Regions from separate parts of the Homo sapiens genome. Here region 1 is reported to be linked to region 2. The links are microRNA targets in miRTarBase. Many come from high-throughput screens and were not tested one by one. Region 2 holds a microRNA gene; the other region holds the end of a gene's coding sequence.
Evidence for each region. The annotated mature microRNA hsa-miR-4787-3p reads GAUGCGCCGCCCACUGCCCCGCGC and lies in region 2 at 1,682-1,705, opposite strand. An mRNA with a match to its seed (bases 2 to 7 or 8) in the 3' UTR can be bound and repressed. Matches are read on the target gene's strand: a 7mer-m8 pairs with bases 2 to 8, a 7mer-A1 pairs with bases 2 to 7 and ends in A, and an 8mer does both.

Region 1 (4,000 bases), not on the chromosome of region 2:
GCCTGGGCTGAGTATTATAGACAACAAGCAGCCTATTATGCCCAGACAAGTCCCCAGGGAATGCCACAGCATCCTCCAGCACCTCAGGTATAATGTAATTGCTAATTTGTTGATTTCTACTCCAGTCTGTTTTCTGCATGTTTACTGTTTGTCTGTTTGGGAGTGTTTGCCTTTTAAATTTTTATCTGGCAAAGTATAATAACTATTTAAATGAAGTACTACGGTGTATTGTTTGGGTTTTTTTGTTTTTTATAATGCTTTCCAGCATCTGAGTGGTGAATATTTCTGCAATGCCTTTGATTTTAAAAATAAATTTTCTTCCCCCAGGGATTTGCAAATCATGCAAGAAGCCACCACCATTTATATTAACCACTTTTTCTTTCTTAAAGGATTCACTCCTGAATTAGCTCCATTTCAAGGATTTTCTTTAACTTTTTGTGTATTTCTTATGTATCTCTTCTGCACAGGGCCAATAATAAGAAGTGGACAATACAGTATTTGCTTCATTGTGTGGGGGAAAAAAACCTTTGTTAAATATATGGATGCAGACGACTTGATGAAGATCTTAATTTTGTTTTTGGTTTAAAATAGTGTTTCCTTTTTTTTTTTTTTTTTTGAAAATGTACAAAATATCTATCACTACTGATAGGAGGTTAATATTTCTGTGTAGAAATGAAAATTGGTTTGTTTTTAGTATTTAGTGTAGATGTACACATTCCAGCAAATGTATTTGCAATTATGTGGTTGATGCTTTGTGATATAAATGTACTTTTTCAATGTATACTTTCACTTTTAAAATGCCTGTTTTGTGCTTTACAATAAATGATATGAAACCTCCTGTGTCGGTAAGTTGGATATGTGGGTATTTAAAGGATTCATAATTTCTTAGCAATGATAAATTAAGATACATATACACAAATATATAAGCTTTCCCCATGAAATATTGAGTTTTTAAACACTGGCATGTTTTTCCCCCCTTGCAGTATAGTGGTAGATTGGAGGATCTTTTCCATTTATTGTATTGGCTCTTTCAGCACAAGTAATCCTGATATCTTCATTTTTTTTCCTTCTGTTTGATTAAAAACTGCATGTGTGTACAATGATCTTTTGGCATACTTCCATTGCATTAACAGTGAAATTTCCTTTTATACATGACCACTGTTTCAGACCTGTACTGCTGCTATAACAGTTAACCTTTCTGTTCTTAATTTGATAATACTTGATTTCCAAGACTGTTTCGGCATAACTAATTTTAAACAGTTTTCAGATAGTGAATATGAGTAGTCTAATAAGAACAGTTTTTTTCCATGTGAAGCAACTCTTTCAATGTATATAATGTTAGTGTGTTTCTTTCTAAATTTAGGATAGAAAAGTGAATAGTGTGCAAAAAGTATAGCTACATTGCATCTGCCATTGAAACATAAATGGGGTATGGAAACGTTCAAGCTTTTTTTTTTTCTTTATGCAGTATAGATAAGCTTTGTTTTGTAAATGCACAAGTCCAATCATTGAATCAACTTAATTTTTTTATGTACTTGAAGTCATTTTATTACTCTTTAACACTCATGCTGAAGTTCTGATATTTTGTTGAAATCCATTGTTTTACTCTTTGCATATTTGTTGGCTCTTTGCATATTAATATATTAGACTACATGCAAATACAGTCTGTCTTGCCATTGTCTGTTGAAGTGCAGGTTTGATCCAGCCAGTATAGAACTAGCTCTGTAGGGGTGAGGAGGACTGTGCTGTGTATCATCCTTGATTGTGTTCCTTCAAGGAGCATTGCACTGTAAGTACATCAGAATGACAAATTGATGAACTGCAACAGTATCTTTTTGTCAATGTTCCACATAATGCAAATGCCATACGTTGTGTGAATATTATGTTGGAATACAGTGCTGATATCTTGGAAAACCATAACTGCCTCTTAATTTAACATAGAATAATACATAGTTCTGTATTTTTTTTAAAGTGAGCTTAATGGGTAAGTATTTTTTATATGCTTTAGCTATAGCTAAAGAAAACTGATACTTAACAAAGTTGAATAGTATTATTCACTGGTGCTCCTAAAATATTGTTTTTCAGTGTAAAATATGCATATCTTCTATATTTAATATGAAAGTCTTGAAATGTATCAGACAGAAGGGGATTTCAGTTTGCAAATAATGAGCAATGTAGCAATTTTAACACATTTCATAAATATATATTTTGTCATTGGTGGAGAGCACCATTTGTTGTTTTGAATATACTTTAAAGGAAGAGGTACAAGGACATAAATGTTGAGATTACCTACAGGATGGAAATAGCAGTACAGTTCATTGTAGATATTTTGAAATGTTTTTGATTGTTTTATATAACCTAGAGTGACTTCCCTTACCCTTATTTAGATCTGCATATATAGTTCTAGTATGAAGTTTAATAGTTAAGGAGTTAGCTATTTGTTATCTTTAAGAGTAGGGTATTGACGTGAACAATTGCAGTATTTTGCATGATACTGTTTTATAGATGACCTTTTAGGAAAGTGGTGCATTTATTAATTGAACTGAAGAAGTAGTTCAGTTGAATTCAGTATCATAATTCACAAATTGGAGGCTGTTGATTTTGATTCATTTAAGGTTTAAAATCTTTATTAATTGCAAACAGTGCAATTATTTATACTTCACAGTGCCTTCCCAGACCTTCCACCTTAGGTTCTGCTGCAAAAAGCACCAGGTAAGCACAACCTAAGGACATATATAAATAAATATTTCAATACATTAATGTTGTCCCTGTGAGGTTTTTGTGGTTGTGTATTCAAAGGCAATCTGCTACTGCTTCCCCAAAATGTATTTTGTTATTTTATGCTACCATCTTAGTGGAAAGTCTGTAAGTTGTTAAAGCAACTGTTTACATTTCTGGGTAATGTTTTTTATTTTACTTTTTTTTTTTTATTAAGACAAGAAAATGATGAGTAGATTGCTGCAGTAATTGAACTACATCCAAATCTTTTTGTATTTTTTCCCCAAATATAGAAGTGTTAATATTAAGAAAGGACAATTACACAGTTTTCAAGATTTAGGAAATCACTTGTTTAGAAACTTCAACAGCCTTCACAATCTGTTTTATATGATGGACAGAAAATTTCTTTGCCCTCCAAAATTATAATTTCTTTATTTTTTTCTTATTCTTAAACTATAATAATTCAGTAAGGATATTATGGGTTAGAATTTTATTATGATTTTTTTCTTAGACAAAAGTTATATGCTGAAGAAGGAAAAAGTTATAAGGCAGTATGTTTTGATAAAAGGCATGTGCATCAGTGAAATGTTAACTGTATAGCAAATAACCTTTCATAATCTGTAGCAATCAGTATTTTTCTGATTTAATAATATTTTAATAACTGACGCTGCATTTAATTTTTTTGCCAGTTTAAAATGTTTGTGTGTTTTTATAGATGATTTTAACTGGTACATATTTTGAGTTAAGTTGAATGTATGAAAGCAGCATCTTATCAGTTTTGTTTATTCGATTTCTAAAATGTGCTGATCCTTTTAAAACTCCTGCTTATCTCTGCAACAAAGAAAAATATTCAAAAATACTGCCTTCATTTTCACACACAGTGCTGAAGATGCTGCAAGCACCAAATCATAGCTCATAAAATCAGGTCCTGAGATAGTTACCCATAAAGAGGAATCCTTTGAGTGTATGCCATTGGTGAGCCGATGAGCATGGACCATAGAAGGGCTCAATGTAGAAGGTAAAATTGGCAAATCATAATTGAGAAATATGAAATGTATTCCCATACATAATATGGTATAGGGTGTAATGTACCTGCTTTTGATCACTTTTCATTTTAAAGTGCTATTCACTTGATCTTAAATGTTCCATGAACTGTTAAATTTCTTAAGTTACATAGTTACTACACCACATTTATGTGTATGTTATGTTTTAATAGTCAATGATAGGTATGTACAATTGATAATATAAAGGGGCTCATTGAAACTTGAGAGCCTGTTGAGTT
Region 2 (4,534 bases):
TTAATAAAATGACGTTAAATGATGTTAAATTACTTGCCCACACCACCAGTAAAGAGAAGCTAGGACTCTGAATTCCACTTTGTCCACTATTCAAGGGCTCCTCCCCCCACGCCCCCACCCCCGCCAAAATAGGGCTCCTCCCCCCTCCAAAAAAATCAATCATGGGGTGCCACTGGAGAGTTGACCACTCACATCAATTATTTGTTATTCTAGTTCAGCAGTTCTGGGAGCGAGTTATGGAGAAGATAAACCACCAACTCCTCACTTCACAGAATCAACTCAGTATTCAGGGAATACTCTAAGAGAAGGGGTAAAATGTCCCTAGAGGTGAATCCCAGCTCTTCGCATCATTTCTCAATTCCTTCTCAATAGAGACTCTAGGACCAGAGCTCCCTTTATCACCTCCATCCTAACATACCTAATTGTTTCAGAAAGTTACCTTTTAAAACAAGATCTTCTACCAGAATAGAAGACCTCTCTGCTGGTCCTCGAATTTAAATAAATTCAATTTTCACACGATAACCTGCCTGATAGCATTCCAAAACATTCGTTACCACTGCAGTTTCAAGTTATTTTGTAGTGAATTGTGAACTAAATCTTGATTAAATTGCGGTAAAGATGGGAAACAAAAATCTATGTTTAGACAGGTTTCCTATCTAAAATTTTCCATTACGAGCTTAGGAAAAACAAAACCTGTACACTCAACATTTTAAATCTGTTTCTAACTGAACAAGATGATAGGTGATGCAATGAGGCTTAACTCTATCATGTAATTGCCACAAAACACTAACATTGTAAAACATTCAATACTTTAAATTACTGAATATTCTTTTTAAAGAAGTTGAATATTGTAAGAATTATTTAGCTTCTGGAGTTTAACACTTACAACATTAAAAAAAGGTTTCTAAGAGGAATAAGGTCTCATCTGAAAACAGGGTTTAAAAAAAAAACCGTATAAACATTGATACATGTCCAAAAACATTTCCCATCGTAAGGTATTATTTCTAATACTAAAGGCAAAACAAATTAAAACAGATCAAACATTTGCAGTCAAATGTCCAAATTTTTGAACTGGGAAAATGATGTCAACGTTTTTCATCCGTTTTCTTGTAAGGTTCCAGATCAAAAATAAACAGCCATCGGGCTCATCAATTCAGGTGCGGAAACTCATTAAAATCGAGCTTTTGGAGGGGAGAAAACATATTCCCAGAATTTGGTTTATCGGGTAAAATTGCCCCGTGGCCCACACCAGAAACCTCGGGCAACTGCCCGGGCCTTGCCCACCCCTCCCGCGGGCCGCACCTGCCAAGGCCGCACCGCCAGCGCCCCCTGCCGCCCTCTCTGCACAGAGACCCGCGCCCACCCCCGCACCCGCACCCGCACCCGCACCTGCCCCCACCCCGCGCTCGCCCCGCGCCGAGGCCGCGCAGCCTGCGGGCAGTGGCGGGGGCACGAGGATGCGAATCCAGGCGGGGCCGGGAGCTGGGCGCGTCCCCCAGAACCCCCGCCACGGCCAGGCCTGAGCCTCACCTACCTACGCCGTATTTCTCCTCCTCCGTGGGGGTCCACATGGCCGTGCCGGGCGCGGCCCCGCGGGCGCGGCGACCGGGCGACAACGCGGCGGGGACGGCCGCGGGCCCGGCTGTGGCGCACCGCGAGTCGAGGCGGGGACGGTCAGGCGGCGCGGGGCAGTGGGCGGCGCATCCCTCACAGGCCGTCCGGGATGCCGCCGCCACCCCCGCCACGTCTGGACCGCGAGGCTCCGCGGGTGGCCCAGCAGCCCCTGGCGGCGCGGGCGAAGGCTCGCCACCTGTCCGTCGCCGCTGCTCCCGTGCCGCCGCTTGCTTCTTCACAGCTCCGCCGCCCGGCTCCCGGCGCCGCCGCGGCTCGGCTCGCCCCAGCGGGCTCGCAGGACGCCCGCGCATGCGCCACTCCCTGCCGCGCAGGGGCTCGCGCTGCCCGGGCTCGCGCCGTCCCGAGCCCGCGCGCGAATCCACGCGCCGCTGCTGCGCGCCAGCGGAGGGAAATCCGCGAGAAGCTATTGGACTGCCCGGCCCCGGACCGGCTTCTAGAATCGCTGGTCCGGGGCCCTCAGCTGCAGCAAACCCCGGAGGGGGCGAAGCCGGTCAGGTGGGCGACTCCCTCTACCCGGACTCCCCACTCGCTTCCGCTTCCAGTGCCTCCTGCCTGCGCCCCGAGATGGCCACAGGCCTCCTGGTCGGAGAGGGGAGATCCAGAAAAGGAGGACACGACACCATTTTCAGACCCATCCCAGTGTCACCCACAGTGCTGTCGGAAAGGTCCCCGGAGCCACCCTGTGCATTCCCAGGGCCCGCAGGATGGAGTCGCCACGAGGGAACCAGGTGGGGTGCACTCGTGCCCCTCTCTCCTGGATCCCCTGTGGGCTGAGGCCGCTGACACCTCCTGGGTTCTTGCTTCTCTGAGATGGCCTGAGTGGTGAATGTTTGGGGCCAGAACAATCAACAGCCGCCTTGCTAGTAAGGAAGAGCTTCATTGGGCCCTTCGTGTTCCTACCCAGGACACGGCATCTGCTGCTCCTGGGTGTCTGCCTCCCTTGGAGCCCTAAGAACTGGCTCCTACCGGAAACTTTCCTCCTCTCTCTCCTCCCTAAGAATCCATTCATTCTGATGCCTGTAAATGTCACCTTGTGACCCCCAAGTCAACCACTTACCAAAGAACAGGAACTGCAGGACTTCTCCTTTCCACCTACATTTGGACCACATGCTCTAATCCCAGCAGATTTGCCCATCTCTGTCACTAGCACTACTAAGTCAAAACCCTGGTGTCATCCTTCACTAGCACTCTCAGACACCACCACTCTTCAAAGCCCAGCTCAGCCCCTCACCTCCAGGAAGCCTGCCCTGACCCATAGTCTCCTTTCCTTCTTTGTCTGGAATTGGAGCTATGTTCGGTTTGTCTTATTTCCCTTATAAGACTGTCAGCTCCCAGAAGGCAAGCTCCAGGCTAAAATCAACTTTCTAAACCCTCACCACCAACCCAGCACCTGTTGTATAGTTGTTGCATGGGAAGCCAGACTAATAGAAGAATATCTTGCAATCAACAGATCTTGTTGATTCTTCGTTCAAAGTGTCATGATTGGTAACTCCTCCCAGGCCTGACTGTGCTCCCCTGGGTTATGGCCACCCCTTCCCACCTTCGGACCTTTAGGCTCCTCCTCTCACTAATCATAGCTGCCCACTCCCGCCCAGAAAAATGTCTGTTCTGTGAATGATAGAATTTCTCAATAGCCAGGTACACTTCTTTTTAGGGGTAGCAGGGGTGTCCAAGAACATAACGAAAGAGCTAACTGTTCCAAGAAGATAGACCCCTCCCCGGTGGCCACCATGGAAGTATTCTATGGAATGAAGCCACATTCTTACAAAACTCTCCAGGTAGCTATTCAACAAGTGGGGCTGAGCTACGCAGGCCTTCAGGGAACAACCTTAAAGCTCTTATTTCATCCTCTAAGTTCACTCCCTTGTCTGCTGTATGTGATGACAGTCACAGAGCCTAAGGGCCAGTTTTTCCAAAGTTTATACTCTTGTTCCCAGTCTGAATCCATCTTAGATTATGGCTTTCCCAGATGAAGAAAATTCTCCATGATTGCACACCTCAGCTCCAGGGTGGAAGGGCATTAAACCCAACCAGGGAAGGGAAAAGAAGGGACCAAAGTGAGAAGGAAGGGACTTAGTAAGCCTGGACTCCTACACTCTTGCTGTTTGTATAAATTTAGATTGTTTTTGTGAGTTGAAGCAAAAGGGCATAGCACACATTGGCCTTCAGCAGGACCATGCACCTGCTCTCTTATCCCCCTAGCATCTGCTCTGATCCTTTCCTTCCTCAGGCTCCCAGTCCACTCAACACACCACACACACACTCTCTCAGCATATGAGCTGCCTTCCAGCTTGCCTCTGAAAATCGAGACCCTCAGCACAGTAACCTCCCCTCCTCTCCAACTGCTCTTCTTTGTGTTCTCGCCACCACCAGGCTCACTGCCTGCTACTTCTCAGGATCCCCAACTATCATTGCCCTGTCTCCCATTTTCACCCTGACCTGCTCCACAGACTCCTGCGGTCCCAGGAAGACCTGCCCTGTTGGTACCCTCATCCCCCCATTCCCTCTCTCTTCCTCCTCTCTCCATCTGACTACAGAGGAGAATCATCCATTCCAAATCCTTTTATTTCAATGTAATTCATTTGATTCTCACCACCTGAAGGTCTGCGTTCTGACCCTGTCACCTCCTGGAAACTACTTTCCCAGAATTCCCCAGGGCCATCCCAACTTCAGACCATTGCCTTGTTCTGGCTGGGTTTTTGCATAGAGTGTCCCTCAGCTTGTGTCCTCTACTCTTGAAACCCACACATCTGCATCATGCTTCAAGAGCTGTCTCAGGGCCACTTTCCTGAAGAAGGCTTCCCCAACTGCCCTCAGTTCAGCTGGATTTTTTGCACCCATTATGACCTTTTCTGTAGCACTTACTCATTCCACCCTTCTCCAAGAGATCAAATGGGTC

Region 1: miRTarBase lists FUBP1 as a target of hsa-miR-4787-3p. The part of its 3' UTR that is shown has no 7-base or 8-base seed match.

The regions. Positions count from the first base shown.
Region 1 is chr1:77,945,242-77,949,241 of GRCh38, reverse strand. It overlaps FUBP1 (far upstream element binding protein 1), which reads left to right. Exons shown (of 20, transcript NM_003902.5): 19 at 1-87; 20 at 468-4,000. The coding sequence ends at 476. Among named protein-coding and RNA genes, the nearest start is that of FUBP1, 32 kb to the left of the region's middle.
Region 2 is chr3:50,672,301-50,676,834 of GRCh38, reverse strand. MIR4787 (microRNA 4787) reads right to left here and starts at 1,755; the gene lies at 1,672-1,755. It overlaps DOCK3 (dedicator of cytokinesis 3), which reads right to left and starts at 1,908. Exons shown (of 53, transcript NM_004947.5): 1 at 1,535-1,908. The coding sequence starts at 1,571. RefSeq lists a silencer at 1,655-1,944.